2 separate regions of the Homo sapiens genome follow, and region 2 is linked to region 1. Evidence: fine-mapped expression QTL. A gene starts in region 1. The other region holds a variant in brackets. All regions are shown on one strand. Distances are between the middles of the regions.

Region 1 (16,656 bases):
GGATAATAATCCCTGGTTACATGGTTGTTATAAAAATGTTAAGTAATCAGAGTTAGCACCTAATAAATAATAGTTATCATTACTTTAAGTATCACTAAAAAGATTGGAAGATTATAAGTAGCTGAGAACAAAATGAATGAAAAAAATGTGTTTTCAATTTGTTACAAATTAAATATGAAAACTTCAGATTAAAATAGCCTATGATTCATGTTTACTTCCTTTATCTCCCAAAACCCAATTGAATTTATTAAAGAATATATGAGAGGAGATACAGCTATGCTAGAAAACAAAGGTACCATTAAAAGGTCAGACACTAAGGCCAAAAGTTCTGAAATACATAAAACAGATGTTTTGCTTAGAGCAGTAGTCAATAACTATCTGTCACATGAGAAAATTAACAAATGACACAGGATGAGATGAAAAGCAAACTTAGCAGTGCTGACTGGCCTGTGAATTAGCACAAGTGAACAGACTTGCTTAGAAAGAATCAATATAGTTTTCCAAAAATAGGTTCTGAGAAAACCCCAAAATTGGAGGAGCAAGGCTAAGAGCAAGTGGCAAATGTTAACAGTCAAGTCCAAAAAATTCAAAAATGCCACTAGTGCTACTACAGGGAGTCCTGGTTATCACTAATACAGGTTATACACAAAATACAGGTTTTTCAAAAAACAGCAAAAAGAAAACACCAAAAGAACAAACCCAAACAATAACACATGGTCAGTGTCCCAATGAGCCCCTTCCCTATTTCTCACAGGCAACTACAACTTTCACCTGATACTGACAGTCTTCAGATTCCCACTAGCAGGGGCTGAAAGTGAAGGAACTCTGTATTGAATACAGTTCTACCAAAGTAATTCTACCAGAGCACAATGAGGAGCTACTGGCCTGTAATATTCACTGGGGTCTGTCTGGGTGCAGACAGCTAATTTCAAGTAAATTGAGGGCTATGCTGCAAAAGACATCTAAGGAGGGTAATCAGGAATCAGAAGAACAGCTTTTAAAAAGATAAAGGGAGAATCTATAGAGACATAAACTGTTAAAAAAAAAAAAAGTAAACAGATCAGCCAATAAACAAGAACATTATAACATTATACGATAACCAAGAAAATGTGAATGGCTGGATATCTGATGATATTAAGGGATTTATTTCTATATATGATGATGGTGTTATTGTTACATTTAAAAACAGGAGTGCTTGTGTTTAAAAGATACATACTGAAATGTTTATAGGTAAATTGACAAGATGTTTGTTACCTGCTTCAAAATAAAATAGGAAAGATAACTGGGGGTTAGGAAGAAAATTATATTTAACCACAAGTATAACTGTAAAAAGTAAGCTTCAGGTATGTGGAGGTTTGCTTTCTCATTCTCTCTACTATATTTTAATTCAATAATTAAAAATAAATAAAACAGTGATTCTCAAGTTAGAACAAAAGGTAAAATCCAACTAATATTCTTAAAAAGGAAGCACAAAAGGTATAAAACACCCTTCAGTTATAAGCAAAATTCTATTTCTGATTAGCAAACCTCAATTTTAAATTATCAACTTTAAAATTGGTTAATACCTCTTTTGATCCGGTTTCTCAAAGTTTGGTTAATACCTCTTTTGATCTGGTTTCTCAAAAGTGTTTGAGAACTTCATATTCAAAAGGCAGTATTTTCTTTTTAACTAAAAAAAATAAAATATAAAATTCAGGAGATGATATTATAAATAATGTTTGGCACACTGATAATCCAAATATACGTGTGTCTAAATATACTCACACAGAAATACAGAAAGTATAGAAAATATAGTTTGGCAGTAAATGTTTTCATAAAAACCTCAGCACAAATTTTTCTTGGCTCACAACTTTTATAAACGTATAAGTAACACTTCAAAAAATTGAGATAACATATACAAATCAATGTGATATACCAAATCAACAAAATGAAGGACAAAAACTGTATGACCATCTCAATAGATGCAGGAAACGCATTTAACAAAATTCAGTCCTTTTTAAGATAAAAATTCTTAGTGTCAGGTATAGAAGGGATGCACCTCAACATAATGAAGGCCATATATGACAAATCCACAGTTAATATTATATTCAAGAGTGAAAAACAGACAGCTTTTCCTCTAAGGTTAGGAATGAGACAAGGATGCCTACTCTCACCACTCCTATTCAAAAACAGAAGTTCTAGCAAGAGCAACTAGGCAAGAAAAACAAATAAATGGCATCCAAATTAGAGCGGAAGAAGCCACAGATGATGACCTTACATATAGAAATCCCCAAAGATTCCACACACAAAAAAAGCTGTTCAGACTAATGAATGAATTCAGCAAAGTTGCAGGATACAAAGTCAACATAGAGGCCAGGCATGGTGGCTCATGCCTATAATCCCAACACTTTGGGAGGCCGAGGCAGGTGGATCACTTGAGCCCAGGAGTTTAAAACCAGCCTGGGCAACATGGTGAAATCTCATCTCTACAAAAAATACAAAAATTAGCTGGGCATGGTGGCACATATCTGTAGTCCCAGTACTTAGGAGGATCACTTAGGCCCCAGGGGCAGAGGTTGCAGTGAGCTGAGATCGCGCCAGTGCCCTCCAGCCTGAGTGACAGAGCGAGACTCTATCTCAAAAAAAAAAAAACAAAGTCAACATACAAAAATCTATTGCATGTCTAGGTACTATCAACAAATTATCTGAAAAGGAAATTAAGAAAACAACCTACTTACAATAACATCAATAAAGTAAAATATTTAGCAACAAACTAAGGAAGTGAAAGACTTATTCACTGAAAACTATAAAACATGGATGAAAGAAATGCTTTCAAGCAGACAGGAATAAATGCAATGACATCTGATATGTTCATGGACTGGAAGAATTAATATTGTTAAAGTGCTCATACTACCCAAAGCAATCTACAGATTCAACACAATCTCTAACAAAACTCCAATGACTTTTTTTTTCCAGAAATAGAAACAACAATCCTAAAATTCATATGGAATTACAAGAAGACACTGAGTAGCCAAAACAATTTTAAGCAGGAAGAACAAATCTGGACGCATCACACTGTCTGATTTCAAAATACGTTTAAAAGCTACAGTAATCAAAACAGTATGGTACCAGTATAAAACCAGACATATAAACTATTGGAACAGAAGACAGAACCTAGTAATAAACCCACACATGAGGACAAGTGAGTTTTGACAATTATGCCAAGAACACACAGTGAAGAAAAGATAATCTCTTCAAATAAATGGTATTGGGAAAACTAGATATCCACATGCAGAGGAATGAAATTGGACGCTTATCTCACACTGTATATAAAAATCAACTCAATATGAATTAAAGATTTCAATGTAAGTCCTTAAACTACAAAACTCTTAGAAGAAAACAGGGAAAAAGCTTCTTGACATTGGCTTTGGCAATGATTTCTTGGATATGACACCAAAAGCACAAAACAACAAAAGCAAAAATAGATAAGTCTGATTACGTCAAACCAAAATACTTCTGCAAAGCAAAGGATACAAAGGCAACCTATGGAATAGGACAAATATTTGCAAACCATATCTCATAAATGATTAAAAACCAAAATGTATCAGTGACTTCTATGACTTAATAGCAAAAAACCAAATAAATTGATTTTAAAATGGGCAAAGGAACTAACAGGCATTTCTCCAAAGAAAACATACAAAATAGCCAACAAGTATATGAAAAGGTTCTCAATATCACTAGCCAACAAGGAAATCAAGTTAAAACCACAATAAGCTATCACCTTATACTTGTTAGGATGGCTACTATTTAAAAAAAAAAAAAAGGACAGCAGAGCACGGTGGCTCATGCCTGTAATCCTAGCACTTTGGGAGGCTGAGGCGGGCAGATCACTTGAGGTCATGAGTTCCTTGATATTTAACAGGAAGAATTTCTAAGAGACAAAATTAACACATGAAAGGAAAAAGTTGTATTTTCAGATACCTAAAATTTTCTAAAATCTAGTACATAGTATATATGTTAGCTAGTCTCAGATTTCAAAGAACAGTTACGCTCAAGTTATCTCAGGTAACCAGGGAATACTGTAAAGATACAGGAAGAAAGACGAAAAACTCAACATTTGCAAAATAGAGACAACTGGAATGTGATTTAGGACACAACAATACCTATTGTGCTCTAATAGGAACCTTTCAACATGCTTGCCACCCTAACTTCTTAGAAATGGACATCTACTGATCCCTAATTATTCTCATATTTTCCTCTCTCTATATATCTATGAGTTCAAATTTCAACAGAAAAAAATTTGACCATGTTTGGTCTGTTACCAACCTATACAGAATGCCTATATGGGGCAGAATTCTCACACCTAGCCACATCATAGGTCTTTGGCTATCTTACAGCTAATGACTTGGGACCAGAGACATGGATATGGGTATCATGGTGACCTGTAAAGCTGGAACTAGTCCTAGTTACCAGCTACTTTGTCTAAAATACACAGCCAACACTCAAAAAGCACCACAATCTTCCAGTAAAACAATCCTAACTTATATCACTAGAAATAATGATTTAGAACATTTACATCTGTGTCTATGTGTTCCTCATTTGCATGGAAAGGAGAAATTCCTTTGGTTGTTGTCAATAGGGCACATACAAAGTATGTGTGACTATCTCAAATAATTTTATACCGACTAAATTTGAAAAAAAGCTTTACTATTAAAGCCAAAACACTGTTATTCAATGTAATCATGCATTTTAAAATATATATTCATAAATACAGTAAACCATAGCATTAGGTTACATTAAAAACATTTACCAAAGCCTACATTATGCATATACTCTTCCTCAATTCATAGGCTACTCCTTTTAAGCTCGTATAGAATTTACTGCTTGCTTTTCTCTAGACATTTACTCACTATGACTGCAGTAGAAACTACACCCAACAAATACATCAACCAAATGAGGACAGAATAAAAATCTTTTCAGACATTCAAAGACTCAAAAACTTTATCCGCCTTGAACCTCTTCTCAGGAGGCTACTGAAGCATATATGCTACAAAACTGTGGTGAAAGGCCCAGAATCCAGGGAATAAGATATCCAGTAGAGGGAAGAGGAAAGGGAATTATGGTCTCTGTGTAATGAATTCTTTCAGGTACAGTATGTCTGAAAAAACCTTCATTTGCCTTTGTTTTAACAAGGTATTTTTGTTGTGTACAAAATTATAGGTTGGCAGACTTTCTCTTTTGGTACTTTAAAGATATTGTTCCACTGTCTTCCAGCTTATATTGTTTGTTTTAAAAAAAACCCTGAACTCATTTTCGTCTTTCTTCCTCTGTAAGTAATGTATCTTTTTCTCTAGCTCTATAAAGATTTTCTCTTTATCAATGGCTTTGAGCAATTTGATAATAATATGCCTTGGTGTGGTTTTCTACACTTTTTGTTTTTGGAATTTGTTGATGATTTGGGGTCTGTGGGTTTATAGTTTTCATCAAATTTGGAATATTTTTGGCCATTATTTCTTCAAATATTTTTGACCTGCAAAATGACCTTTACCCCTCATGGTATCCAATTACATATATTAGGCCACTTGGGGGTATCCCACAGCTTGCTAATTGCTCTTTTTTTTCTGGTCTTTTTTCTCTCTGTGTTTTATTTTGGGTAATTTGTATTATTATCTTTCAATTATAAATGTGTAAGGACCTAACAATAGGTATTGAAAATACATGAAGCAAAAACTGATAGAACTGGAAAGAGTAAAAGACAAATGTAAACTTGTATTCAGAGACTGTAACATACTTTTTTCAATAATTGATAGAATAAGTACAAAAAAAATCAGTGTGAATATACAAAGCTTGAACAACTCTATCAACCAGCTTGGGCTAACTGACATTTACAGAACATTCAACCCCAAATAGCAAAATAGATAATACATTTTTCTCAAGCACAAACAGAAGATTTACCAAATTGCACCATACTCTAGGCCATAAAACAATTTACAATACATTTAAAATAACTGAAATCATATAAAATATGTTCTCTGAATATAATAGAATTAAACTAGAAGTCAATGAAAATCTCCATCTAGAAAATCTCCAAATATTTGTAAAGAACATACTTCTAAATAAATACATAGGTCATATAGGAAAAAATAAATAAGAAAATATATTCGTTACATGAAAATTTTAAGATAAAAATTTGTGAAATGTGGCCAAAACAGTGCCTACAAGAAATTTTAACATTAAAAATGTATATTAAAAAATAAACAGATCAAATTATGATCTCAGTGGCCACCTTAAGAAACTAGAAGAACATATAAAACCAATTGAAAGCAGAAGAAAACGATGACGATATAAGAGAAAGCGATAAGTTCTGAAACCAATGGAAAAAACTTACAGAGAAAAATCAGTGAAACTCAAAGCTAATTCTCTAAAATGATCAATAAAATTAACAAACCACTCATCAGATAGGCCAAGAAAACAATAGCCACAAATTATCAATTCAGGAAAGAGAGGATATCACTACAAATTGTACAAACATTAAAAAGATAATGAAGAGGTATTACAACTTTATGACTGTAAATTCAACATACTAGATAAAAAGGGCAAACTACTCAAAAGATAAAAACTACCAAAACTCACCTAAGACAAAATAGATAGCCTGAGTAGTCTTATACCTGCCAAAGATATTAAATTTGTAGGTTAAAAATTTATTATCTTTGAATTTTTAATTCCAGCCTTCCAACAAGGAAAACTCCAGGACCAGATGGCTTCACAGGCAATTTATATCCAACATGTAAGAAATAAGTAATACAAATTCTTCACAAACGCTTCCAGAAAATTCAAAAGAAGGAAACAAAATTTAACTCACTTTATAAGGCCAGCATTAACCTAAAAACAAACCTAGAAAACACATTAAAAGGAAGAAATTAAGATCCTGAAGAACAGAAAACAAAATTCTTCAATAAAATGAAAGCACATCAATCCAATAATATATAAAAAGGATAATGCATCATGACCAAGTGGAGTTTACCTGACAAATGCAATATTCAAGACATTCAACAATCAATCAATGCCAAATGAGTTAAAAGCTTATGTCCACTCAAAAAACTGCACAGGAATATTTATAGCAGCTTTATTCATAATCGCCAAAACTTGGAAGCAACCAAGATGTCCTTCAATATGCAAACGAATAAACAGTGGTTCTAACCATACAACAGAATATTATTTAGCAATAAAAAGAAAGTAGATGGCCAGGCATCTGGTTTACTCCTGTAATCCCAGCACTTTGGGACGCTGAGGCAGGCAGATCATCTGAGGTAAGGAGTTCAAAACCATCCTGGCCAATATGGCGAAACCCTGTCTCTTACTAAAATTACAAAAATTAGCTGGGCATGGTGGTGGGCACCTGTAATCCCAGCTACTCGAGAGGCTGAGGCAGGAGAATCACTTGAACCTGAGAGGCAGAGGTTGCACCGAGCCAATATCGCACTACTGCACTCCAGCCTGGGCGACAGAGTGAGACTCTGTCTCAAAAATAAATAAATAAATAAAAAGAAAGGAGCTATTATGCCACAAAAAAACATGGAGGAAACTTAAGTGCATATTACTAAGTGAAAGAAGCCAGTCTGAAAAGATCACATACTATATGACAGCAACTACATGACATTCTGGAAAAGGCAAAACTACAGAGACAGTAAAAAGATCAGTGGTTGCTAGGGGTTTGGTAGCAGGAAGGGAGGAAGTGAGGACACATTAATGCAAGATATTAACAATGGGAGAAACTGCATTGGGGGAGCAGGAATATCTGAGTAGTTTCCATTCAATTTTTCTGTAAACCTAAAATTGCTCTAAAAAATAAAGTCTATTAATTTTTAAAAGTCAATCAGTATAAATTCACCACATGATCATTCCAACAGAACCAAAAAAAAAAAAAAAACCCAGCAAGCAAGCATGTGACAAAATTGACAAAATTCAACATCGATTCATAAGAGAAAGCGCTCAGCAAACGAGGTACAGACAGGGAACTTTGTTAATTTAATAAAAGGTATCTAAAAAATTATAGCTAACACCACACTTAACAATGAAAGAGTAGTGGCCAGGCGTGGTGGCTCATGCCTGTAATCCCAGCACTTTAGGAGGCCAAGGTGGGCAGATCATCTGAGGTCAGGAGTTCGAGACCAGCCTGTCCAACATGGCGAACCCCATCTCTCCTAAAAATAAAAAATTAGCCAGGCATAGTGGCACATGCCTGTAATCCCAGATACTCAGGAGGCTGAGGCAGAAAAATCGCTTGAAACCAGGAGGTGGAGGTTGCAATGAGCCAAGATCACGCTATTGCACTCCAGCCTGGGCAACGAGAGCGAAATTCCACCTTTGGGGAAAAAAAAAATGAAAGATTAAATGTTTTTCTTCTAAGATATGGAACAAGAAAAAGATACCTATGCTCACCACTCTTATTCAACATTATACTGGAGGCTCATCTAGTGCAGCCAGGCAAGAGAAGGAAATAGAATGCAAATAAGTTAGAAAGGATAAAAACAAAACTGTCTCTATCCACAGTTGATATAATTACCTACAGAGAATGTCCAAAGGATCTGCAAAAGGCTTCATTCAAGAACTAGTAGGTGAGTAAAACAGGTTGCAAGATACATGCTCAACATGGAAAAATCTATTGTACTTCAATATAATAGTAACAAAGAATTAGAAATTACGTTTTTTAAAGCATCATTTATAATAACAATACAATATAATATACTTTATAATAAATTTAACAAAACATATCATGATCTCTATGCTGAAAACTACAAATCAGTGATAAATTTTTAAAAATGACCAAGTAAAAGGTCTCTGTGAATTAAGTCAAACTGATTTCGACATTAAATCCCATTCTCTTAAATGCTACGTTATCCAATTTGTCTCTCTTGAGTAGCAAAAATACTTTGTGAGGCTAAGTAGGTACTGTTATTTCCGTTTTACAGAGTAAGCTGGAGCTGCTATGGCCAAGCACTCACACTCTTAGGTATGTACTCATGGAAAATGAAAACTTATGTTCACACGAAACCCATATGTGAATGTTTCTTGCAGCTGTATTCATAATCACCAAAAACTGCAAGTAACTAAACTCAAATGCCCTTTAATGAGTAAATGAACAAACTGGTACATCCATTAACATGGAATACTAATCAGCAGTAAAAAGGAGCAAACTACTGATATACGTAATGAATCTCAAAGGCATTATGCTGAATAGAAGAAGCCAGGTTCAAAAGGTTACATATGGTATAAGTATACATGTGGGACAGTCTCAAATGGAAAAAAGTATAATGGCAGAGAACAAATCAGTGGTTGCTGAGGTTAGGGATGAGGAGAGATTGTAACTACAAAAAGGTAGCATGAGGGAGTTATTCAGGGTGACGGAACTGTTCTGTATCCTGATTTTGGTGTTGGTTACATGAATCACATGTGTTCAAATTTATAGAACTATACACCAATTTTAAAAGTTAATTTTACTGTATTTTAAAAATAGAATCTAAAAAAACCAACTAATAGCAAACAGAAAACTAAAGAAAAAAAATGAGATACCACAACACACCTACTAGAAGAGCTAAAATTAAAAAGACTGACCATACCAAGTGTTGATAAGGATATAGGACAACTGGAAATCTCATACACTCCTGGTGGGAAGGTAAAACGGTACCACCACTTAGGCAGTTTCTTAAGAAGTTAAACATACACCTAACAAGTTGACTCAGCCATTCCATTTCTAAATATTACATCAAGAGAAATAAAAACATAAGTCCATACAAAGACTTACACATGAATGTTCATAATTTATTTGTAATAACCCCTAACTAGAAACAACCCAAATATCTATGAACAGGTGAATGGATAAACAAATTATGGTATATACATACAATGGAATATTACTCAGCATTAAAAAGAAATAAACTACTGATAAACACAAAAACATGGATGAATCTCAAAATAATTATGCTGAGTGAAGAACCTAAAAAACAAAAAAAAAAAAAAGCAGAATATGTGCTGTATGCTTCCACTTAAATAAAATTCTAGCCAGGCGCACTGTCTCACATCTGTAATCCCAGCACTTTGGGAGGCCGAGGCAGGCAGATCACAAAGCCAGGAGTTCAAGACCAGCCTAACCAACATGGTGAAACCCCGTCTCTACTAAAGATACAAAAAGTTAACTGGGCAGGGTGGCACACATCTCAGTTACTTGGGAGGCTGACGCAGGAGAATCACTTGAACCTGGGAGGCAGAGGTTGCAGTAAGCCGAGATAGCGCCACTGCACTCCAGCCTGGGCGACAGGGCGAGACTCCATCTCAAAATAAACAAATAAAAATAACTAAATAAAAATTATAAAAAATACAAACTAATGTATAGTGTCAGAAATCAGATGAGTGCCTATCCATGGAAGCAGAAGCATAAGGCAAGACTAGAAAGGAGCACAACAAATTGTTGTGGATATTGAATATGTTAATTTTCTTGACTGTGTTGATGGTTTCACAGATATATACATATGTCAAAACTTACCAAATTATACATTTTAAGCATGGGCAATTTTTTTTGTCAATTATACTTCAATAAAACTCTCAAAATGCAATTACAATTATGTAAGAAAATATACAAATTAGTGAGAATATGTAAAAATAAAATATTCATGTTATTGTAGAATAGACATGACTGTTAATTTGAAACTTTAATGGTATTGTATCTCTATATAAATGAATGATACAAAAACTGGTATAAATATATTTGTTTGTTGTTTTTTGGGCTTGTTTTTTTTTTTTTTTTTTGAGGTGGAGTCTCACTCTGTCACCCAGGCTGGAGTGCAGTGGTGTGATCTCGGCTCACTGCAACATCCGCCTCCCAGGTTCAAGTGATTTTCCTGCCTTAGCCTCCCGACTAGCTGGGATTACAGGCGCGTGCCACCATGCCCAGCTAATTTTTGTATTTTTAGTAGAGATGGGGTTTCACCATGTTGGCCAGGCTGGTCTGGAACTCCTGATCTCAGGTGATCCACCCACCTCGGCCTCCCAAAGTGGTGGGATTACAGGCATGAGCCACCGGACCCAGCCATAAATGGATTTTTTAATGGGCAAAAGGTTTGAACAATACTTCACCGAAGATCTGTAGATAGTAAATAAGCACATGAAAAGACTGTCAACATCCTCAGGCATTAGGAAAATGAAACTTAAAATCACAATGAGATACCACTATATACCTATCAAAATGGCTAAAATAAAAATAAAAACACACCCAAAAATCAGATAATACTAAGTGCTGGTGAGGGTGTGGAAACAACTAGAATTTTAATGCATTGCTGGCAGGAATACAAAATGGTACAGCCACTTTGAAAAACAGTTTGGTAGTTTCTCATAAAGTTAAACACACATTGATCACACAACTTAGTAATCCCACTACTAGATATTTACCCAAGAGATATGAAAACTTACGTTCACACAAATCCTGTATGGGAATGTTTGTAGAGCTTTTGTCACAATCACAGAAACTGGAAACATCCTAATGTCCTTCAGCTTGTGAACAGATAAACTGGCAAACCCATACAATGGAATACTACTGAGCAATAAAAAGGAACAACTACTGACACATGGATGAATCTCAGCTACATTATGCTATGTGAAGCAAGCCAGACTCAAAAGTCTAAATCCTGTATAATTCCATTTATATGATATTCTAGAAAAGACAAAACTATAGGCCCATAAAACACATCAGTAGTTGCCAAAGGGTGTGGGAATGAACTACTAAGGAGTTGGAGGAAATTCTGATGGTGATGGAATTATTCTATTACTTGAATCCAGTGAGGTTACTCTACTCATTTGTCAAAAACAATAAAACTGTACACCATAAAGGGTGAATGTTACTGTATGTAAATTATATTTCAATTTAAAAAAACTCAGTCTGACAGTTTGCATATTTTTAATTTTACTGACAACTTATGGAAAAGAAACATCTCTCTGCTTGCAACCTGTCAAGAAATACTTAACACCATGCTATGTTCTTTGCAGGCTTTTTTCTTTTTTTGTGAGACATATTCCCTGCCTGACAGAGGAGCTCATTAGGGAAACAAGTCTAAATATTAAAATAAGTTACAGAAAAAGGCCAGGCAAAAATAAATTAATTGAGTGATAAATCACAGAATACATTTTATATGTGTGGGAAATGAATGGCACATAATCTTGGAAAGGTCTTAGTGCTTCTCAACATTGCTGATCTTATATTATCTCTAACTTTCAAGTGAGGATGTTGAGACTTGGAGAGGACAAGTACTTTTTCCGTGATTCCCGAGCTATCAGGTGTCAAAGCTGAGATTCTAACCCACGCCTCTTCGCCCAAAACCTGACATTTTCTGCATGCGGCGATGGAACAACACAGAAGAGGTTACGACGGCGGCTACACAGTGTGATTTCAATGGACAGCAACGCCTCCTTACTCCCCAAACAACCCGCTCAACTACTTGGCACGAATCCTACACAGTAACACCATGATTATTGCCACGTTTCTTAAATTGAGCTCAACGGGGTCTTGGAATGTCAACTCCCGAGAAAGGAATCAGCGAGCCTTGTGGGGATATGGACCTACTTCTGACAAGTCTTGGTAGTAAGGAAGGCGCATGGGGCCAGCGCCGGAGCCAGGGTGCCACCGAAAAGGGTAAACACCAAGAAAGAAGACAGCCGAGGCGCTGAAGATACTCCTCTTCAATTACACCACTCAGCTCTGGGTCACAAGGCGGGGAACAGCGTACGAAAAACCCCTCCCCTGGCCCTTCTAGCCCCTTTGGTGAAAGATTTCCGTGGACTTTTCCCTGCCTCCGTCGCCAGTCCAGGGCTAAAACTGAGGCTCCTCTACAGGCGTGGCTGGGAGGAAAGTGGTGGTGCGCCTTAACAGCGCAAGCAGCCCGGGGCACGCCGGGGGAAGGCGCTGGGTAGTAGGGACCGCGGACGCACGAGGCCGGGCCAAGGCGCCCAGAGCCGGGCCGGGTAGGGCTCCGATGCCAGAGTGAAGGGGTCGACAGGGGAGAACGAACTCGGGAAATTCTCTCCGGTGACACCCTAAGTGTCGCATGATGCGTTAGTTGACTAGGGGCTCTCACTTTTCCCTCCTTTACTGACCTCGCAATCACTGACCACGCAATCGCTGCCCACGCCGCCACCTCACCTCTCCAGTTCTTGTACTGCGGGATGTAGTAGTATTTGTTCCCGAATTGGTCCGTGCCCACGTGCTCCTTCACTTCCCTTGACAGCGATCTCCACAAGGCGCGGAACAAATCCTGAGACCAACCCATGCCGTCCACCCAGTTTCCAGCGCTGCCAGCAGCGGGACCCGCAGTAGGGGTAATGCTCCAGCCGCCGACCCAGCCCACCGAGGCGGAGAAGTCAGGTCGGCCTCCATCCTGGAGCCCTTCTAGTAACGGCGCTCACCATTGGCCGGATATATCACCGACTGACCAATGGGAGACTCTGCTGTTCCAGTCCCGCCCCTGAGCTCTGTCATGGCGACGTCCAGTGCTCCAGCCGGTGTGAGGACACGATATGCTGGGGTTTTTGTCCGCACGCCAAACGGGTTTGGAGGACCCTCTTCGCCTTCGGAGAGCAGAGTCAACACGGAGGTAAAGAAAACCTTACTTTTTGGCTAACAGGCCAGTTAGAATCTGGACCAATGACTGTAAGCTTTGCCCCACACTTTCCCGTCTCATCGCTCTCCTGCCACCAAACTATTATTTGCCCTCTAATGCTGTGTGGCTTGCTAAAATAGGATCCCTTTTATTTACTGGTAACAACTTGCAGGCGGGGGGCGGCGGGGGTGGGGGGGGTTCCCCGGGGGTGGGGGGGGGGTTCCCCCGCGGGCTCAGGTGAAGACACTATAAACCTAAATAAGAATACTTCGTTGTACTGTATTCCTTCTCTCTTAAGTTACTCCAAAGAATAACTGCCCTCCACGGACTCGTTCATTCATTCAGTCTGCATATTTAGTGAATTCCTACAGTGTGCCAGGCAGCCTATTAAAGGCAGAGGACACAGGCCAGGAATTGAACAAAGTTCAGAATGACTAGAGCGGAGAATTGGGGTAGGGACCATTGACAAGAGATGAAGTAGACAGAAACTAGATGAGGAAGAGCCTTGTGTACTTGAGTAGAGGTGTGAAGATGAGAATAAGGTAACAGCTATTGCATTTTGTTTTCTGCTTGGAGAATGGGTTGCAACTGAGAACAAGAGTGGGAGCCAAGTTAGGTAACTGTTGTGATTACACTTGTCCGGGAGAGAGTTGTTGGAAGCCTGGGCCACAGAGTTGCCAAGTAGAATAAAGATAGTGGAGAGATTTGAACAACGTCTGAGAAATAGAATCAACAGGCCATGGAAATTGAGTGGATACGTGAATGACAAAAAGAGAAGAATGAATAATGATTCCCAGATCTATGCCTTGTATAAGAAGTTGAATGTTGGTAATATACTCTGAGAGAGGGTTTTCCAAAGGGAAGAAGCAAGTTGTACTTTTAATTTTGCCCACATTAATTGAGGAACCTGTGAAGATATTTACTTGGAGAACACAGTTGCTTATGAGTTCTGCGTTCTGGAGAAATTTAAATATTAGTTTCCAACATTTTATCCATTACGTTTTCAATGTTGTGAAATATCTCTGAGAGTTCCTTTAATGTGTTTTTTTTGCCAGTGTCACTTCCTCTGACACATCATCAGCCTTTCATCACAATCACTTTTCCTCATTTATGTCTATAAGTTCACCTTCACTGATTTCCTCAGTCTGCATATCTAGAATGTCTCAAATGGCGGCAGTGTCATTGTTGCCACAATCAGCATGTTCCCACAGGCAGCTTTTTTTTCATTTGCTCCATTTATGTTTAATGCAAGTTTCACTTCTAGTATTATCACTCTTCTTTAGTGCACTTTCATTCTTTTGGCCAATTTCCTCTTTTAATCTGTAAAATTCCATGTGGGTTTATCTCAAGGGCACAGAAATATTAATAACAAACCTCCATGCTTTGCAGCCTGTGTGTGAACTGAATAACAGATGCACAGTGACCAATCACCCATAGACTTTGAAAGAAGTAAAATTGCAAATTGGTCAATTTTGATTCATATGTTATTTATGTAATGATTTGTGAACTGAAAAGCTAGTAGCAAACTTTTATGCTATTTCTCACGGTTAATAAACTGTGGTAACTGAAATTCATATCAGACTGTGCCAAGTGAGGATTGCTTATACGTTTAAGACAAATAAAGTATTTAAAAATTAAAAAAATATTTTTTTTTTGAGGCAGGGTCTTGCTCTGTCACCCAGGCTGGAATGCAGTGGTGCAGTTACAGCTCACTGCAGCCTCGACTTTCCAGGCTCAAATGATCCTCCCATCTCATCCTCCTAAGTAGCTGGGACCACAGACATGTGCCCACACACCTAGCTAATTTTTAAATTTTTCGTAGAGATGGGGTCTCCCTATGTTTCCCATTCTGGTCTTGAACTCCTGGGCTGAAGTGATCCTCCTGCCTTTGCCTCCTAAAGTGCCGGGATTATATGTGCGAGCTACCACACAGCCTAAAATTTTTTTAAAAATATTTCCATCATTAAGTGATGTTTTTGCTTAAACAATTATATAGTTCCATTTTATTCATAGGAGATGTCTACTGTTCTTCCTTGTCATCATGTAAGAGCAAAAGGATGAACACTGATATGCAGTGTTCACAGTTTACACCCTCTAAAAAAACATTTTACAACTTTATTGAGGTATAATTGACATGCAATACCCTGCACATTAAATGAGAATATACAATTTGATGAATTTTGACATATATTTACTTTTGAAACCATTACCATAATCAAGAGAACATCCATAACCCTAAAAAATTTTTGACGGTCATTTATAATCCCTGTCTCCCTTCTTTCTCTGCTTTACCCTCTTCCTTCTCTAGAAACTACTAATCTGCTTTAGGTCACTATAGATTAGTTTGCATATCTAGTATTTTATATAAATGGAATCTTTTTTGTCTGGCTTCTTTCACTCAGCATAATTACATTATTTTGAAATTTCTCCATGTTATTGCATGTATCAATTCCTTTTTTTTGCTGTGGAGTATCCCACTGTGCAGATATACCACAGTTTATCTAGTCACTTGTCGATGGACATCTGAGTTGTTTCCAGTTCAGGACTAATACATTTACAGCTGCTCTGAAAATTCATGTATGAGTCATTGTATGAACATATGCTTTTATTTCTCTGAAGTTAATGCATAACAGTGGAGCTACTAGATAAATCCTTTACTTTTTAAGAAACTGACAGTTTTCCAAAAGCATTTTCCAGTCCCACCACTAATAGGTGAGAGTGCTAGCTGCTCCATATTTATGTTTCCCCTTTCCTGCTTTCATTTGACTGTTTGAACATTATTTAGTATTCTATTTTATATACTATGGTTTTGACTATATCTTTTTGTATAATTCTTTAGTGGCTGCTCTAGGAATTATAAAATACTTACTTTTCGTTGTCTACTTCGGATCATTTCATTGTTTTACTGCTTCATTTGGCATATAGAAACCTTATCACCCTTTCCCCTGCACCATATATATATTGTTGTCTTATATTTTATATTTACATACATTATATACTCTATCAGACATTATAATTTTTTCCAACCATC
Region 2 (16,656 bases), 200 kb after region 1:
CACAGAACACATATTGCTTTTTAATCAGGGAAAACATGATAACCAGAAAATCTGAATATTAGCCTAGAAAAGGTCCCTCTTGGGACTGTGTAAGATGTTCTGCCCCACAGAGCCCTTGAGCACTACTAGAAGGGCCACCAGTTCTCTCTCACACCTCGTAGATTCTCTGCCTCAGTTGGCAGTTCAGACACTTTTTTTTTTTGAGATGGAATCTCGCTCTGTCACCCAGGCTAGAGTGCAGTGGCACGATCTCGGCTCACTGCAACCTCCGCCTCCCAGGTTCAAGCGATTCTCCTGCCTCAGCCTCCTGAGTAGCTGGGACTACAGGCGCGTACCACTGCGCCCGGCTAATTTTTGTATTTTTAGTAGAGATGGGGTTTCGCTATCTTGACCAGGCTGGTCTCGAACTCCTAACCTCGTGATCCACCCGCCTCAGCCTCCCAAAGTGCTGGGATTACAGGCGTGAGCCACCGTGTCTGGCCTAGACACATTTTTATCTGTGACAGTGGAGGACAAGTGGCAGGTATAAGGACTCCGAGATGCTTTAACTACTAAAAAATTCCAGGGGCTCTAAGTAAAATGTTATTATTTTCCAAAAATTAAAATATCTGGTCCAATAACAGGACAGAATATTTGAAATTGAAATCATACTGAAAAAATAGGCCACATGTAGTGCATGGTCATTTCATCATAGTCAAGGACTCAAGTCAGAGACTGTTAGAGAAAACCTGCTCTGTTGATTCTCTGAGTAGTAAAAAGGTTGCTGCACTGCACAGCTCCAGGGAACATTTAAATATAGACCCTGCGGTTGTGCAATTTTGTGGTTCTGAATAGTGGATCCATACTTCCAACTGGCTTTTGACATTATACCACCCATTATCACTCTCAGGGAGGCTAGATTTAAAGATGGACTTCTTTGCCCAATAGTGCACTCCCTGCACTTTGGGAGTGCATAAACATAGGTAGGTAAAGAATTGTTAACTCTTCATATCTGAATAATTTTTTTTCACGTTTTCATTTCTTAGGTCCAGTTTGTTATTGTCGCCATCCACATAAGCCAGTTCTTTTTCATGGAGGATTGCAAGTATCAGTTTCCAGTCTTTGCGTGCATCATTATGAGTTACAGTTTCATGTTTCTGCTGCTCTTTCTCCATTTTTGGTACCGTGCTTACACCAAAGGTCAGAGGTTGCCCAAAACTGTGAAAAATGGAACTTGCAAAAACAAAGATAATTGAAGCCCAACATAAGTCTATGATCGAAACTGATACATTGTCTTCCTTGACAATCAAGAGATATTTACCTATGCAGTGCATTTTGTATATTTTTCAAAACTAAGAGCTTGTATTTTTATGGTAAGTTATTGGGATGTCTGATATTTGAGAGCCCGAAGCTTCCAGATAACAGTCTTCTGATAATTAGAGCCTACAGCAGCCAGAATTTGTTTTTGTTTTTGTTTTTGTTTTTTTAGCTGCTTTTAAACCTAATCCAAAGGTTTTGTTTAAAACATTTTGTTGCAGTGAAAAAAAGATATGAAGCAATACAGTACTCTTCAAAGAAGTCCAATAAAGATGAAAAATATCATTAGGTATTTTGAGCACAGACGGAGATCCATGTGATAAAATAGATTCCTTCTGCTGGGTCTGGAAAGTCTGGAAACCACCTGTAGGCCCTGGCTTTGTCATTTATTGACTGTATTCAGAAGATACTATATTTGCTCTAGAGTTAACTCCCATTTTAGCAAGCTAGCACAGGTGAAAATTGAGTGAGTTTTTGATAACTTGTCATTTAAAATCATTAATGATAATTTTCAATGGATCTTTTCAGTAGCCATCACCAGTTTTGCTGATAAGACTTCCTCACAACCCATTTGTTGTACAAACTGTTTCAAAGTAGCAATCCTTTGGGTTAGTACACTTGATACCAAGTTTCATTCAGTTGATTATTTTCAAAACAAGGTGATTTGTTTTAATGGGTTAATGAATACTTTGCTATTACTGTTTTACAATTAACTTTGTATATCTCTGGAAAGAGGTGAATTTGTCAATGAAAAAAGTATTGTGTAGTTCAGTGGGAAAAACCTGTTGTCTGTTATAGTATCACATCACTTTCTTACATTGTCATGGTTTAAATTATTATCTTGGTGAAATATATAGGTTAGATACTTAAATGTTCATATTATTAGCACACTACAGGTACTACCCTTAAATCATAAATAATATTACCCATTGTACACAGTTTCCAGATATGAGTTAGAGTGGCTGTGAAGCAACTAGAGGCAAATTGTGGCACAGAGAATATCCAGGGGAAAATTGATTATGTAAGCAAGGGCTGTTCTACTTTGAGAGAGAGACAGACAGACTACATAATAGTAATATATTATATAATTAATGTTATAGATACACTGAACAATAAAACATTTTCTGGAATTATGAATTAATTAACAACCTGGATTTCTGTTTCCAGACCTATAAACCATGTAATGAAGGACTGAAATTCGTTTGGCATACACTTTGTTTCTTTAAAATTGCTAGTTTCTTTCTGTTATTTTTACATTTTCTTGTCAGAGAATCAAAACTATTAGTCAGTAGAGTTTTGTCCATGAAATAATATTTGGACATTTGTGAATTTTTCCCTATTTTTTTTCTTCTTTTATTTATACTCAATTTTGAAGCACTGTTTATGTTTGTAGGACTTTAAACAATTAGTACTTAAAGCCCCAGTTAATTTTGAACACACAGAGATACTTATTGTACTCTGTGTACAGTAAGTATTTTTATGTTTACACTTACCAGATTCATAAGGTTATTTGCCTTTAAGTGATCTTTTGTGATTTTACTTGATTACAGCATGAGAAGGTAAAGGTTGATAAATGGGAGTAATTACATATATATATATAATTTATTATTTTTTTTTCTGAAGCAGAGTTTTACTCTTGTTGCCCAGGCTAGAGTGCAATGGCACAATCTCGGTTCACTGCAACCTCTGCCTCCCAGGTTCAAGTGATTCTCCTGTCTCAGCCTCCCAAGTAGCTGGGATTACAGGTGCCCGCCACCATGCTCAGCTAATTTTTGTATTTTTAGTAGAGACAGGGTTGGCCAGGCTGGTCTCGAGCTCCTGACCTCAGGTGATCCTCCCACCTCGGCCTCCCAAAGTTCTGGGATTACAGGGGTGAGCCACTGTGCCCGGCCATAATTTTATATTTTTAGAAAATAAAGAATGAAGGACAAAAGAGCACAGCTAAATGAAACTGCTGCTCTAATTTATTCCACTGGAAAGGTCTCAGGACTCCTTAACTGTTTTCCAGGTTTGGCTCTTCATATCTAACCTGTGCTAAAATGAGAAGGTATGCTAGGTGCTGTTAGAAATCACACCATTTCCAAAGAACCCAAGTAGTATAGAGACCAAAATGAGGCAAAAATAAAAGAGATGAAACAGGAGAGTTTATTTCTTGCATACTTTCCGACCTTCATCATACAACCTCTCCTAACCTCCCTGTAGTCTTTAAAATGTTTAACTTGCCTATAAGCTAACATGTAATAAAACACATACTCAATTATATGAATAGAAGTGGAGAGCCAGAATGCTACAAAAGAAATCACAGCTGCTAGAAGTATCCTCCATAGAAACATCAACATGATTGTGGATCAAAATGATTTTCACTGGATATGGAATTTGTATGGGCCATATTTATTAAAAGAGTTCTGTGTGGTCACATAGAGTTCCTTTGGGATTTCATCCCACTTTTCAGGACTTAATTTGTTTGGGTTTGCTTACCTAACAAGCAACAACAACAACAAAATAAATAGTTCCAAAATCTAGTTTATTACATAAATCTCTATGAATCCTTGAGGGCCTATATCTATATTATAAATAAATACAAATATAGATTTTTAAATATCTATGGGACTTTGCCATTTACAGCCTTAAGTATAAAATTACGAGATTATATTCTTTCCATTACCCTTTATTTCTGCTAACTTTTTAAAGACTGGAACATTCTGTGGATGTTGTCAAAGTTTGAGTTTGTTTTTCCCTGTGTATTATAATAAATTTGTGGTATTGCATGTATACGTGTGTATATTTTTCATTTTGGAATCTAGCTGCATGTATTTGCATGGGTTGGTGACTTTTAATTTGAATACTCACCAATCAAAGTTATTTTACATATTTCTTGTATACGTGCTGTGTTCATCTTTGGGATACAAAGATACTTAGAACATAATTGGGATCTCCTGGAGCTTACCAACTGGCAGATGAAATTATGTGACAGGGCAGTAGATGATAGGTGCCAGATGAGTGACAGTTCTGCCACTTAGCAGACAGGGAAGACTCTATGAAGGAATTTGAATTTGAGTTATGTGTTTAGGTTGTACAGAATTTCAAAATTGGTGGTATGTTAGTAGGCAAGGTTTTTTAAGTGGAAAGAATTAACAAAAAAGAATATTTTGCCATCCCCACTGTCTCTAATAAATGGGACTAGCTAATGATCACTGGTTGCTAAAACAATTAGATGAAAGGTTGATGGGGATGGCTTGTGCTGATATGACTGAACCCAGTGATCAATCTTAATATCATTCAAAGTGGGACAACCAGATGTTTTGTCTCATAATACACTATAATACTCTGAGGTATTCGTGGCAAAAAAATTTTTGAACTTGAATCTAATAAATCCTCTGTATCTAAACTACTAGTTACAGGAAATACAATATATAAGAGTTAAAAGACACAAAAAGGATACCATCAGCCAAGTCCAAAATGTAGGAAATTCCATAGAACAAATGACCTGGTTTCTTCAATAAATAAATGACATTAAAAAAAAAAAAAGAAAACCAGAGAAGGCAACTTTTGTAGATGAAAGACTTAAGATATACTAACCAAATGTCATTTGAATCCTGATTTGAACAAACCAAATCATAAAAGGACATTCTTATAACAATCAGATATAACTGAACATGAACTAAATTTTAAAAGACAAACTATTAATATTAGATATTATTACTGTATTGCAGATGTATATATTTTAAAGTCCTTATATGTGAGATACATACACTGAAGTATGTATATGTAAAATGATAGGTTGTCTGATTTCGTTTTAACATACTCTAGTAAAAAGAAAAGGGGGTGTTGATAATTGTTAAAGTTGGGTAATGGGTTCACTTAATAAGAGTTTATTATACTCTTCTGTCTACGTTTGTGTATGTTTGAAATTGTCCAGTTTTTAAAAAGCAATGTATGTATTATAATGTTCTGTATAGATGTTATTTAAGTTAGGAACCAAAATGACAGAATTGACATGATTTTCACTGGTAGTCAGTCAGTATTGAGGGTGCTTACTGCATCTAAGTGTCATGAGAAACTTTAAAATGTACTGGATGTGGTCCCTGCCCTTAAAAAATTTACAGTACAGTTTAAAAAGACAGGCCTACATCAAATTTTAATAAAAACAAAAGTGGCATACCTGTTGACAAGTGAAAAGTGTATTACAGATTTGCAATATATATTATCCTAAAATTAAGTAGTTACCTTTGATGAAACAAAATATAATGTTCACCAGGACCCACTGAAGATGTTTGATGGAGGAGTAACATGATCAGCCTGGTTATGAGAGCCTCTGGAAAAGAATCCCTTCCATGGAGCCCGAGGCTCCCTGTCACCAGCATTTTCCAGTATTTCCTTCTTGTAGGAAGCAGTTGGGTGTAATAGACTGTAGTTATTGTCTGTCATTCCAAAGCATCATGCCATGTAGCTAAGTACTCTGGGGAAGGGCAGGGATACAGAGAAAATCTGCATATACCATATACCACCAGGGAAGAAGATGTCTTTGTATGCCTTCTTGGGTACCAAATACAATAGAGTCTAGGTCTGTTTCCTTCTAAAGGACTTTCCCAGGAGTCCCACACAACAACTTCCACTTACATCTCAATGGTCAAAACTGCCTCATGGCCATTTCTGGCTGCAGGAGAAGCTGTGAACTAATTTTCTAGATGGGCACATTGTCATCTCCAACAAAATTAGATTCTATTAGTAAGAAAGAAGGTAAGATGACGTTTGAGTAAGCACCTGATGTAACCTCACCCACTGAGAATCCATCACCATGATGGGCCATTATTTTGCACAGAAGTACATATAATTCTTCAAGTGTCTAAATGGAAAAGTGATTGAACACTCTTATTTAGGGCCAGCACTGTGCCTGGCATCAGCAAATGATTAAATCATTACTTCTGGATGAATATATATACACATAAGTTATATATAATGTATTATATATAATAGATTCATTCAAAATGATTGATACACTAATATAATTTAAAATATATAGTCTATATATTATAATTCAGTGTATATATTTAGCATATATTTTTCCATCAGTATACTATTTGTATAGCCTTTGTTATCTTTATATAAATAGTATTGTTGTTTCTCAAGCTGTTACAGTTTGTCTATTATTGACTAACAAATCACCCCTAAATTTGATGACTTACAGCTACATCAAGGCTACATCTCTTACCACTTTGAAGGATCAATGATTTGAGAAGCCGAGTGGTTATTGTTTGGGGTCCCTGGCGCAATTGCAGTCAGACTGTGGCTTAACCAGGAACCAGGAGGTTGAGGCAGTGGGGGATGGCTGGAGATCTCTGTGTAGTCTCAAGTCCTCTCTGTGTGGTCTTTCCCCTTGGGCTACTTTGAGCTTCCTCACAGCATGGCAGTCTCAGGGAAGTCAGACCAAAGGCTTCAGGAGTAAGCATTCCAGTGAACAAAATGGAAGCAGTATTGCCTTTTATAACCTAGCCATAGAAGTCAGGGAATATCACTTCACCTGTACAAAAGCCCACCCATTTTCAAGAGGAGAGGACACAGACCATGTCCCTCAATGGGAAGAGTGTAAAAGCTACCTCGTAAGTACATGTAGGATGGGAGAAATATTGTACTTGGAAAATACAGTCTGCCACACAAAGTATTACCTAAAATAGACAGGAATACTTATTTTTCTCTTTAGAAGAGTTAAAGCCTATCTTTAATTCACACAGTTCTGGTTTGTATTGACTAGTTCTGTAGGTGAAAGTAAGTGCCGTTTTATTTTTTCACTAAGAAAGTGGCCCCTTGCACAGAGAAATAGACTCAGATTTGAGTGTGGAGTTTAAGGTAGGTCCCTAGATTAAATGAGAGCAAGGGTTATGGTTCTCTTTGTTTCAGGCAGCATAAGATACATGATGATTGGGGACGGGGTGGAGATAGAAATTCCTCCAGATGTTTCTAGCAGATACAACCACAATATAACAGGACACAAAACATGTCTTTTATACCAGGCTGCCCCAGAGAGAGGGCCAAAGGGCTCTTACTTTCCTGGCACTGGCTGGGCATGTTCATACTTTTTATTGACAGCCAGTATCAGGTCAGGCTGCACATGTACCTATAACTCAACAAAGTTACAAACTATAACACTCTTCAAATCTAAATATGAACATTTTTGCCTATATTCAAACTACAGCATTATTAAAACATTGCTGCACCTTGTTTGTATTCTAGGACCTACAGGATTCAATTAGTTTGGGATGTACTCTGGTTACTAAAGGGAGAAAGCTTGATATGAGGTAAGTATCTCTAAGTGCCCAGGCCACACAAAAGGACACTCTGTACATAGTCCTTACAACTTAAATAAGAATGATATAAGCATCTGAGTATTTGAATGTGGAGATGTAAACTCGGAGCTACTGTGTTCCTTTTATTTTTTTTATAAGAGATGGGTCTTCCTCTGTTGCCCCAGCTGGAGCACAGTGGCACCTTCATAGCTCACAGTAACCTCACACTACTGGGCTCAAGCAATCTTCCTGCCTCAGCTTCCGGAGTGGCAACATGCCTGGATAATTTTTTTTATCTTTTGTAGAGACGAGATCTTGTTATGTAGCCCAGGCTGGTCTTGAACGCCTAGCGTCAAACGATTCTCCCACTTCAGCCTCTCAAAGCACTGGGATTACGGACAGGAGCCCTCTTGTGCCTTCTATCTTAAAAGTTGCACAAATTCTGGTCAGTGTGTCTTTTGCCCATTTTGGGTTATCTTGCCCATGAAAGTATGCCTTTCTTTTTATTCTTGTGGCAACCCTCCTTGTTCAGACCCGAATAATTTTTCCTAGATTATAATATTATCCTAGATTATAATATAGTCTAGATTATATTATAATAATATTTGCCTAGATTATAATATTATTATATTATCCCTGTATAAAAAGCCTTTCATCCTACTAGATGCTGTCATGGAGAGGAAGCGTGGTGCACTGGTTGGGAGCACAGGCTCTGGAACCAGCCTGCCTGGTCAAATCCTGACTCTGTTTCTTGCTAGCGCTATAACCTGGACAGCTTCTCTGTCTCTTAGTGTCCCAACTGAAAATGGAAACAATACTTCTTTATCCAGTTATTGTGGGATATTAGATGAGTTAAAACAGGGAAAACTTTTAGAGCAGTGCTTTCCTTCCAGTTATTCAGGCTAAAAACCTCAGAGTCATCCTCAGGTCCTTTCTGTCTCACTCAACGCCAAATCCAACAAGAAATCCTGCTGGCTTCCTCTCAAAGTATAACCAGAATCTGACCAATCCTGGGCCCTTATCATCTCATGCCGGGATTCCTGGAATAGCTTCCTGTGTGACTCTCTGTTTCTGCCTTTGCTTCCCTAAAACTTCTTGTCCAAATAGCAGCCAAAGTCATCTCTTAATATAAATCAGATCATGTAACTCTTTTATTCCGAACCCTACAGTGGTTTCTGGTTTCACTGAGCGTAAAAACCCTGTCATTGCTTCTCTGTCCTCACCGCCTACCAATCCCCACTTTGTTCCCTCTGCTCCAGCCACACTGGCCTCCTTGCTGGTCACTGGACCATTGTAAGTGCATTTCCATCTTAGGGTTCTTCATTTATTTTTCTCTGCCTAAGGGACTGTTCCCAAAATAACTGCTTGGCTAAACCCTTCAATTCCCTCCTTTGTTCAAATCTCACTTTTTCAGTACTGCAGCCTGCACCCTCATCTTTCTTTTTCCTATACAGCACTTATTACCTTCTAACATGCTATACAATGCATTTAGTTACTATTAATGTTATTTATTGACTGTCTTCCTCATGAGAAAGTAATCTCTTCAAGGGTAGATGATTTTGTCTATTTTGTTCACTGCAAGTGCCTAGAACAATGGCTGGCATATTACGGGAGTTCAATAACTGTTGTTGAATGAATGAATGAATGAACGAAGCACTGAATAAGTATGTGCTATTGTTATAAATTCTCTTCCTCTGCTCACTCTTTAGTGGTTTAGTCAATCATTCAACAATTTGTTAAACTCCTACTATATGCCAACTGCTGTGCTAGAATATAAAAATGAAGTCAAATAATACCAATCCCCACAGAGATTTTCGCTTGGATAGAGGGCAACAAACATGCAAACAAGTCAAGTCAGATATTCTGCTGTTAAACAAATAGTTTTTGTTTGTTTGCTTGTTTGTTTGTTTTGAGACGGAGTATCGCTCTGTCATCCAGGCTGGAGTACAGAGGCGCAATCTCAGCTCACAGCAACCTCTGCCTTCCGGGTACAAGCAATTCTCCTGCCTTAGCCTCCTGAGTAGCTGGGATTATAGACACCTGCCATCATACCTGGCTAATTTTTGTATTTTTAGTAGAGACAGTAGAAACTGGACCTTTTCCTTATACCACATACGATGGACTAAAGACTAAAATGTATACCCCCAAACTATAAAAACCCTGAAGGACAACCTACGTAATACCATTCTGGACATGGGAACAGGCAAAGATTTCGTGACAAAGATGCCAAACGCAATTGCAACAAAAGCAAAAATTGACAAATGGGATATAATTAAAGAGCTTCTGTACAGCAAAAGAAACTATCAAGAACATAAATAGACAGTTTATAGAATGAGAGAAAATTTTTAGAAACTATGCATCTAACAAAGGTCTGATATCTAGCATCTATAAGGAACTTAAACAAATTTATAAGAAAAAAAACATTAAAAAGTGGGCAAAGGACATGAACACTTTTCAGAAGAAGACATACATGAAGCCAGAAAGCACATGAAAAAAAGCTCAACATCACTGATCATTAGAGAAATATAAATCAAAATCACAGTGAGATTTCATGTCACACCAGTCAGATGACTATTATTAAAAAGTCAAGAAATAAAACAGATGCTGGCAAGGTTGCAGAGAAAAAGAATGCTTATACACTGTTGGTGGGAGTGTAAATTAGTTCAACCACTGTAGAAAGCTATGTGGTGATTCCTCAAAGAGCTAAAAACAGAACTACCATTTGATCCAGCAATCCCTTTACAGGGTATATACTGAAAGAAATATAAATCATTCTATCATAAAGACACGTGCACACGTATGTTCACTCCAGCACTATTCACAGTAGTAAAGACATGGAATCAACCTAAATGCCCACCAATGGTAGACTGAATAAGGAAAGTGTGGCACAGATAAC[G/A]CCATGGAATACATGCAGCCATAACAAAGAACAAGATCATGCCCTTTGCAGGAACCTGGATGGAGCTGGAGGCTATTATCCTTAGCAAACAACATATGTTCTCACTTATAAGTGAAAGCTAAATGATGAGAACACATGGACATATAGAGGGAACAACAGACACTGGGGTCTAAGGCTGAAGTCTGGGAGAAGGGAGAGGATCAGGAAAAATAATGAAAGGGTCTAGGCTTAATACCTGAGTGATGAAACAGTCTATGCAACACACCCCCGTGGCACAAGTTTACCTGTATAACAAACCTGCACATGTTCCCTTGAATTTAAAATATAAATAAATAAATACCAAGAAGCAGCTTGTCCTCTCCTTCTGGAATCTCTGCCTGGTTCAGGCCACCTGCCTCCACTCCTGCCTCCACCATGTCCATCAGGATGACCCAGAAGTCCTACAAGGTGTCCACCATGTGGGCCCGGTGCCCGCATCAACTCCTCGAGCTTCTCTTAAGTGGGCAGCAGCAGCTTCCGGGGTGGCCTGGGCAGAGGCTTTAATGGGGCCAGTGGCATGGAAGGCATCACCGCTGTCACGGTCAACCAGAGCCTGCTGAACTCCCTTAACTGGAGATGGACTCCAGCATCCAGGAGACCACACCCAGGAGAAGAACCAGATCAAGACACTCAACAACAAGTTTGCCTCCTTCATAGACAAGGTACAGTTCCTGGAGCAGCAGAACAAGATGCTGGAGACCAACTGGAGCCTCCTGCAGCAGGAGAAGATGGCTCGGAGCAACATGGACAACATGTTTGAGAGCTACATCAATGAACAACTTTAGGTGGCAGCTGGAAACTCTGGGCCAGGAGAAGCTGAAGCTGGAGGCGGAACTTGGCAACATGCAGGGGCTGCTGGAGGACTTCAAGAACAAGTATGAGGATGAGATCAATAAGCGTACAGGGATGGAGAATGAATTTTTCCTCATCAAGAAGGATGTGGATAAAGCTTACATGACAAGGTAGAGCTGGAGTCTCTTCTGGAAGGGCTGACTGAGGAGATCAACTTCCTCAGGCAGCTGTATGAAGAGGAGATCCAGGAGCTGCAGTCCCAGATCTCGGACACGTCTGTGGTGCTGTCCATGGACAACAGCCGCTCCCTGGACATAGTGTCATCGCTGAGGTCAAGGCGCAGTACTAGGAGATCGCCAACCGCAGCTGGGCTGAGGTTGAGAGCATGTACCAGATCAAGTATGAGGAGCTCCAGACGCTGTCTGGGAAGCACGGGGATGACCTGCGGCATACAAAGACTGAGATCTCCCAGATGAACTGGAACATAAGCCGGCTCCAGGCTGAGACTGAGGGCCTCAAAGGCCAGAGGGCTTCCCTGGAGGCCGCCATCAGAGATGCCGAGTAGCGTGGGGAGCTGGCCGATAAGGATGCCAACGCCAAGCTGTCTGAGCTGGAGGCCGCCCTGCAGTGGACCAAGCAGGACATGGGCGGCAGCTGCGTGAGTACCAGGAGCTGATGAACGTCAAGCTGCCCTGGACATCGAGATCGCCACCTACAGCTGCTGGAGGGCGAGGAGAGCCGGCTGGAGTCTGGGATGCAGAACATGAGTATCCGTACGAAGACCACCAGCGGCTATGCAGGTGGTCTGAGCTCGACCTATGGGGGCCTCACAAGCCCCGGCCTCAGCTACGGCCTGGGCTCCAGTTTTGGCTCTGGTGCGGGCTCCTGCGCTTTCAGCCGCACCTGCTCCATCAGGGCCATGATTGTGAAGAAGATTGAGACCCACGATGGGAAGCTGGTGTCCGAGTCCTCTGACGTCCTGCTCAAGTGAACAGCGGAGGCGGCAGCCCCTCCCAGCCTGTCCGTCCTGCGGCTGCCCCAGAGCACGCGAGGGAGGCGGCTGTGCAGGGGAGCACAGGGAATGGGAGACCCACCTGAGGCTCAGCCCTAGCCCTCAGCCCACCTTCAGGGGAGTTTCCTGCCTGGGGATCCCCCATGCCCATGTCTCCAGCTACAAAACAATTCAATTGCTTTTTTTTTTTTATGGTCCAAAATAAAACCTCAGCTAGCTCTGCAGAAAGAGAAAGAAAGAAAGAGAGAGAAAGGAAGGAAGAAGTTTTTAGCCTGTACAATGAAGGGACAGAAAGGAGAAATAGCTCTATCTGGGCTGTGGTAGGACTTAAGCAGAGACTTTAAAGGGGAGATAATATCAGCTGCCTCATGAACAATAAGGGGATGTTTGCCAGACAGAAAATGAGGGAGAAGAGTGTGCCCAACAGGTAATTCCAGATGAGAAAAGGAAAGAAACACCCTGGCCTAAGCTTGAGGGAAATGTGAAAGGTGAGCCCAGTGTTTCGGCTTTAAGAGTGCAGGACCAGGAGGGATGGGAGGGGCCGGGTGAATGGTGAGTTTGTGGTCAGAGAAGATGCTTGATGTTATTTTTCCCGAATGTTTTAAGATGCGTTTTGTAATATAACATATGGTCTATTCTTGAGAACGATCCATGTGATGAAGAAAAGAATGTGTATTTTGCAGCCGTTGGATGAAATATTCTGTAAATATCTATTAGGTCCCTTTGTTCTGTAGGGCAGATTAAGTTCAACATTTCTTCACTGATTTTCTGTTTGGAAGATCTGTCCAATCCTGAAAGTGGAGTGTTGAAGTCTCCAGCTAATATTGTATTGGGGTCTATCTCTTTCTTTAGCTCTCATAATATTTGCTTCATACATCTGGGTGCTCCAGTGTTGAGTGCACATATATTTACAATTGTGATATCCTTTTGCTGAATTGACTCCTTTATCATTCTATAATGACCTTCTTTGTATCTTCTTATAGATTCTGTCTTGAAATCTATTTTGTCTGATATAAGTATAGCTACTCCTGCCCTTTTTTGGTTTCCCTTTGCATGGATTATCTTTTCTCATCGCTTTATTTTCAGTCTGTGTGTGTCATTACAGGCAAAATGTATTTCTTGTGGGCAACAGATCGTTGGACATTATTTTTTTATTTATTCAGCCACTCTATGTCTTTTAATTGGAACGTTTATTCCTTTTACAGTCAATGTTATTACTGATAAGTAAGGACTTTCTTCTGTCAGTTTGTTATTTGTTTTCTAATTGTTTTGTAGTCTCTCTTCCTTCCTGACTTCCTATTAGTGAAAGTTATTTTCTGTGGTGGTATGTCTTAATTTCTTTCTTTTTCTTTTTTTTTTTTTTTTTTTGCATCTGTTGTATACTTTTAGATTTGAGGCTACCACGGGGCTTCCAAATACTATCTTATAACCCTTTTGTTTTATTTATTTATTTATTTATTTATTTATTTATTTATTTATTTTTTGAGACAAAGTTGCTCTTATCCCCCAGGTTGGAGTGCAATAGAGTGATCTCGGCTCACTGCAACCTCTGCTTCCCAGATTCAAGCAATTCTCCTGCCTCAGCCTCCCGAGTAGCTGGGATTGTAGGTGCCTGCCACCATCACCAGCTTTTTTTTTGAGACAAAGTCTCACTCTGTTGCCCAGGCTGGAGTGCAGTGGCGCAACCTCTGCTGCCTGGGTTCAAGCGATTCTCCTGCCTCAGCCTCCTGAGTAGCTGGGATTACAGGCACCTGTCACTGTGCCTGGCTAATTTTTGTAGTTTTAGTAGAGACAGGCTTTCACCATATTGGCCAGGCTGGTCTTGAACTCCTGACATTGTGATCCACCTTCCTCGGCCTCCCAAAGTGCTGGGATTACAGGCGTGAGCCACCGCGCCCAGCCTTAATTTTTGTATTTTTAATAAAGATGGGATTTCATCATGTTGGCCAGAATGGTCTTGAACTCCTGACCTCAGGTGATCCGCCTGCCTTGGCCTCCCAAAGTGCTGGGATAACTGGCGTGAGCCACTGCGCCCGGCCATAACCCATTATTTTAAACTGATGATAGCACTGATTGCATAAGCAAACAAAGTAACAAGCAAAAAGAAAACTAATAAAAATTCTACACTTAACTTCATTTCCCTACTTTTTAACTTTTTGTTGTTTCCATTTATATCTTATTATACTGTGTATATCTTGAAAAGTTATTGTAGTTATTATTTTTAATTGGTTCATCTTTTCATCTTTCGATTTAAGATATGAGTACTTTACATATCACAATTACAGCATTATAATATTCTGTGTTTTTCTGTGTAGTTACTATTACTAGTGAGTTTTGTGCCTTCAGGTGACTTATTGTTTGCTCATTACCATCCTTTTCTTGAAGATTGATGAACTCCCTTTAGCATTTATTGTAGGACAGGTCTGGTATTGGTGAAATCCTGTGGCTTTTGTTTTTCTAGGAAAGTCTTTGTATCTCCTTCATGCATGAAGGATATTTTTGCTGGATATACTATTCTAGGATAAAAGTTTTTTTTTTTTCCTTCATCACTTTAAATATGTCATGCCACTCTCTCCTGGCTTGTAAGGTTTCTACTGAGGAGTCTGCTACCAGATATTTTGGAGCTCCATTGTATGTTATTTGTTTCTTTCCTTTTGTTGCTTTTAGGGTCCTTTCTTTATCCTTGACCTTTGGGAATTTGATTATTAAATGCCTTGAGGTAGTCTTCTTTGGGTCAAATATTTTTGTACTTGAATATTAATATCTTTCTCTAGGTTTGGGAAGTTCTCTGTTATTATTCCTTTGACTAAATTTTCTACTCCTCTCTCTACCTTTTCTTTAAGGCCAATAACTCTTAAATTTGTCCTGTTGACGCTATTGTGTATATCTTGTAGGTGTGCTTTATTCATTTCTATTCTTTTTTCTTCTGTCTCCTGTGAATGTGTGTTTTCAAACAGCTTGTTGTCAAGGTCAGTAATTCTTTCTTCTGTTTGATCAGTTCTGCCATTAAGAGACTCTGATGCATTCTTCAGTGTCTCAATTATATTTTTCAACTCCAGTATTTCTGCTTGATTCTTTTAAATTATTTCAATCTCTTTGTTAGATTTATCTGATAGGATTATGAATTCCTCTTCTGTGTTATCTTGAATTTATTTGAGTTTCCTCAAAGAGCTATTTTGAATTATCTGTCTAAAGGTCACATGTCTCTATCTCTCCGGGATTGGTCGCCAGTGTATTATTCAGTTTATTTGGTGAGGGGATGTTTTCCTGGATGGTTTTGATGTTTGTGGATGTTTGTCAGTGTCTGAGCATTGAAGAGTTAAGTATTTATTGTAGTCTTCACAGACTGGGCTTGTTTGTACTCATCCTTTTTGGGAAGGCTTTCCAGGTATTTGAAAGGTCTTGGGTGTTGTGATCTAAGTTTTTCGTCACTGCACCTGTGGTTCTTGCAGACTCATAGAGGTACTACCTTGGTGGCCTTGGATAAGATCTGGAAGAATTTTCTGGATTACCAAGTAGAGACTCTTGTTCTCTTCTCTTACTTTCTCCCAAACAAATGGAGTCTCTTTCCCTGTGCTGAGCTGCCTGTAGCTGGGAAAGGGGTAACACATGGACCCCTGTGGCCACCATGACTGGGACTGCACTGGGCCATACCTGAAAGCAACACAACCCTAGGTCTTGCACAAGGCCCACTGTGACTACTACCTGGCTACTACCTATGTTTGCTCAAGCCCCTAGGGCTCTACAGTCAGAAGGGGTGAAGCCAGCCAGGCTTGTGTCCTTCCCTTCAGGGCAGCTAGTTCCCCTGGGTCCCGAGCAGGTCCAGAGATGCTGTCTAAAGGCCAGGGCCTGGAGTCAGAAACCTTAGAACTCAACCTACTGCTCTATTCTGCTGTGGCTAAGGTAGTACCAAAACCACAAGACAAAGTTCTTCCCACTCTTCCCTGCCCTTTCCATAAGCAGAGGTATCTCTCCCTGTGTCCACCACCACCACAGATCCACAGGGAGTACTGCCAGGGTGCCAACGATGTTCACTTAAGGCCCAAGGACTCTTCAGTTAGCTTGTGGTGACTGCTGCCAGGCCTGGGACTCATCCTTCAGGGCAATGACATCCCCTTTGGCCCAGGGTAGGTCCAGAAATGCTGTACAAGAGCCAAGGCCTGGCATCAGGGACCCCACAGCCCTGCTTGGTGCTCTACCCCAGGGTGGCCAAGCTAGTACCTAAGCTGCAAGACAAAGTCCCCTTTATTTTTCCATCTCCTTTTCTTAATCAGAAGGAGTTTCTCCCTATGGCCATCACAGCTGGGAATATGATGGGTCACACGTGACACTAACAC

Alleles and levels. Positions count from the first base shown, and alleles are read on the strand shown. Sizes are in standard deviations (SD) of each study's normalised expression.
As copies of G replace A in region 2, the expression in aorta of the gene that starts at base 13,346 in region 1 goes up (small effect, 0.27 SD a copy in GTEx).

What was found.
Region 2: its variant is fine-mapped to the expression of NDUFAF2 in aorta (GTEx, PIP 0.95).

The regions. Positions count from the first base shown.
Region 1 is chr5:60,941,895-60,958,550 of GRCh38, reverse strand. NDUFAF2 (NADH:ubiquinone oxidoreductase complex assembly factor 2) reads right to left here and starts at 13,346. Exons shown (of 4, transcript NM_174889.5): 1 at 13,169-13,346. The coding sequence starts at 13,295. ERCC8 (ERCC excision repair 8, CSA ubiquitin ligase complex subunit) reads left to right here and starts at 13,481. Exons shown (of 12, transcript NM_000082.4): 1 at 13,481-13,619. The coding sequence starts at 13,543. RefSeq lists an enhancer at 12,581-12,710.
Region 2 is chr5:60,739,203-60,755,858 of GRCh38, reverse strand. ELOVL7 (ELOVL fatty acid elongase 7) reads left to right here. Exons shown (of 9, transcript NM_024930.3): 9 at 1,026-4,068. The coding sequence ends at 1,235. It also overlaps the pseudogene KRT8P31. Among named protein-coding and RNA genes, the nearest start is that of DEPDC1B, 47 kb to the right of the region's middle. The variant G/A (reference allele first, on the strand shown) is at 10,477.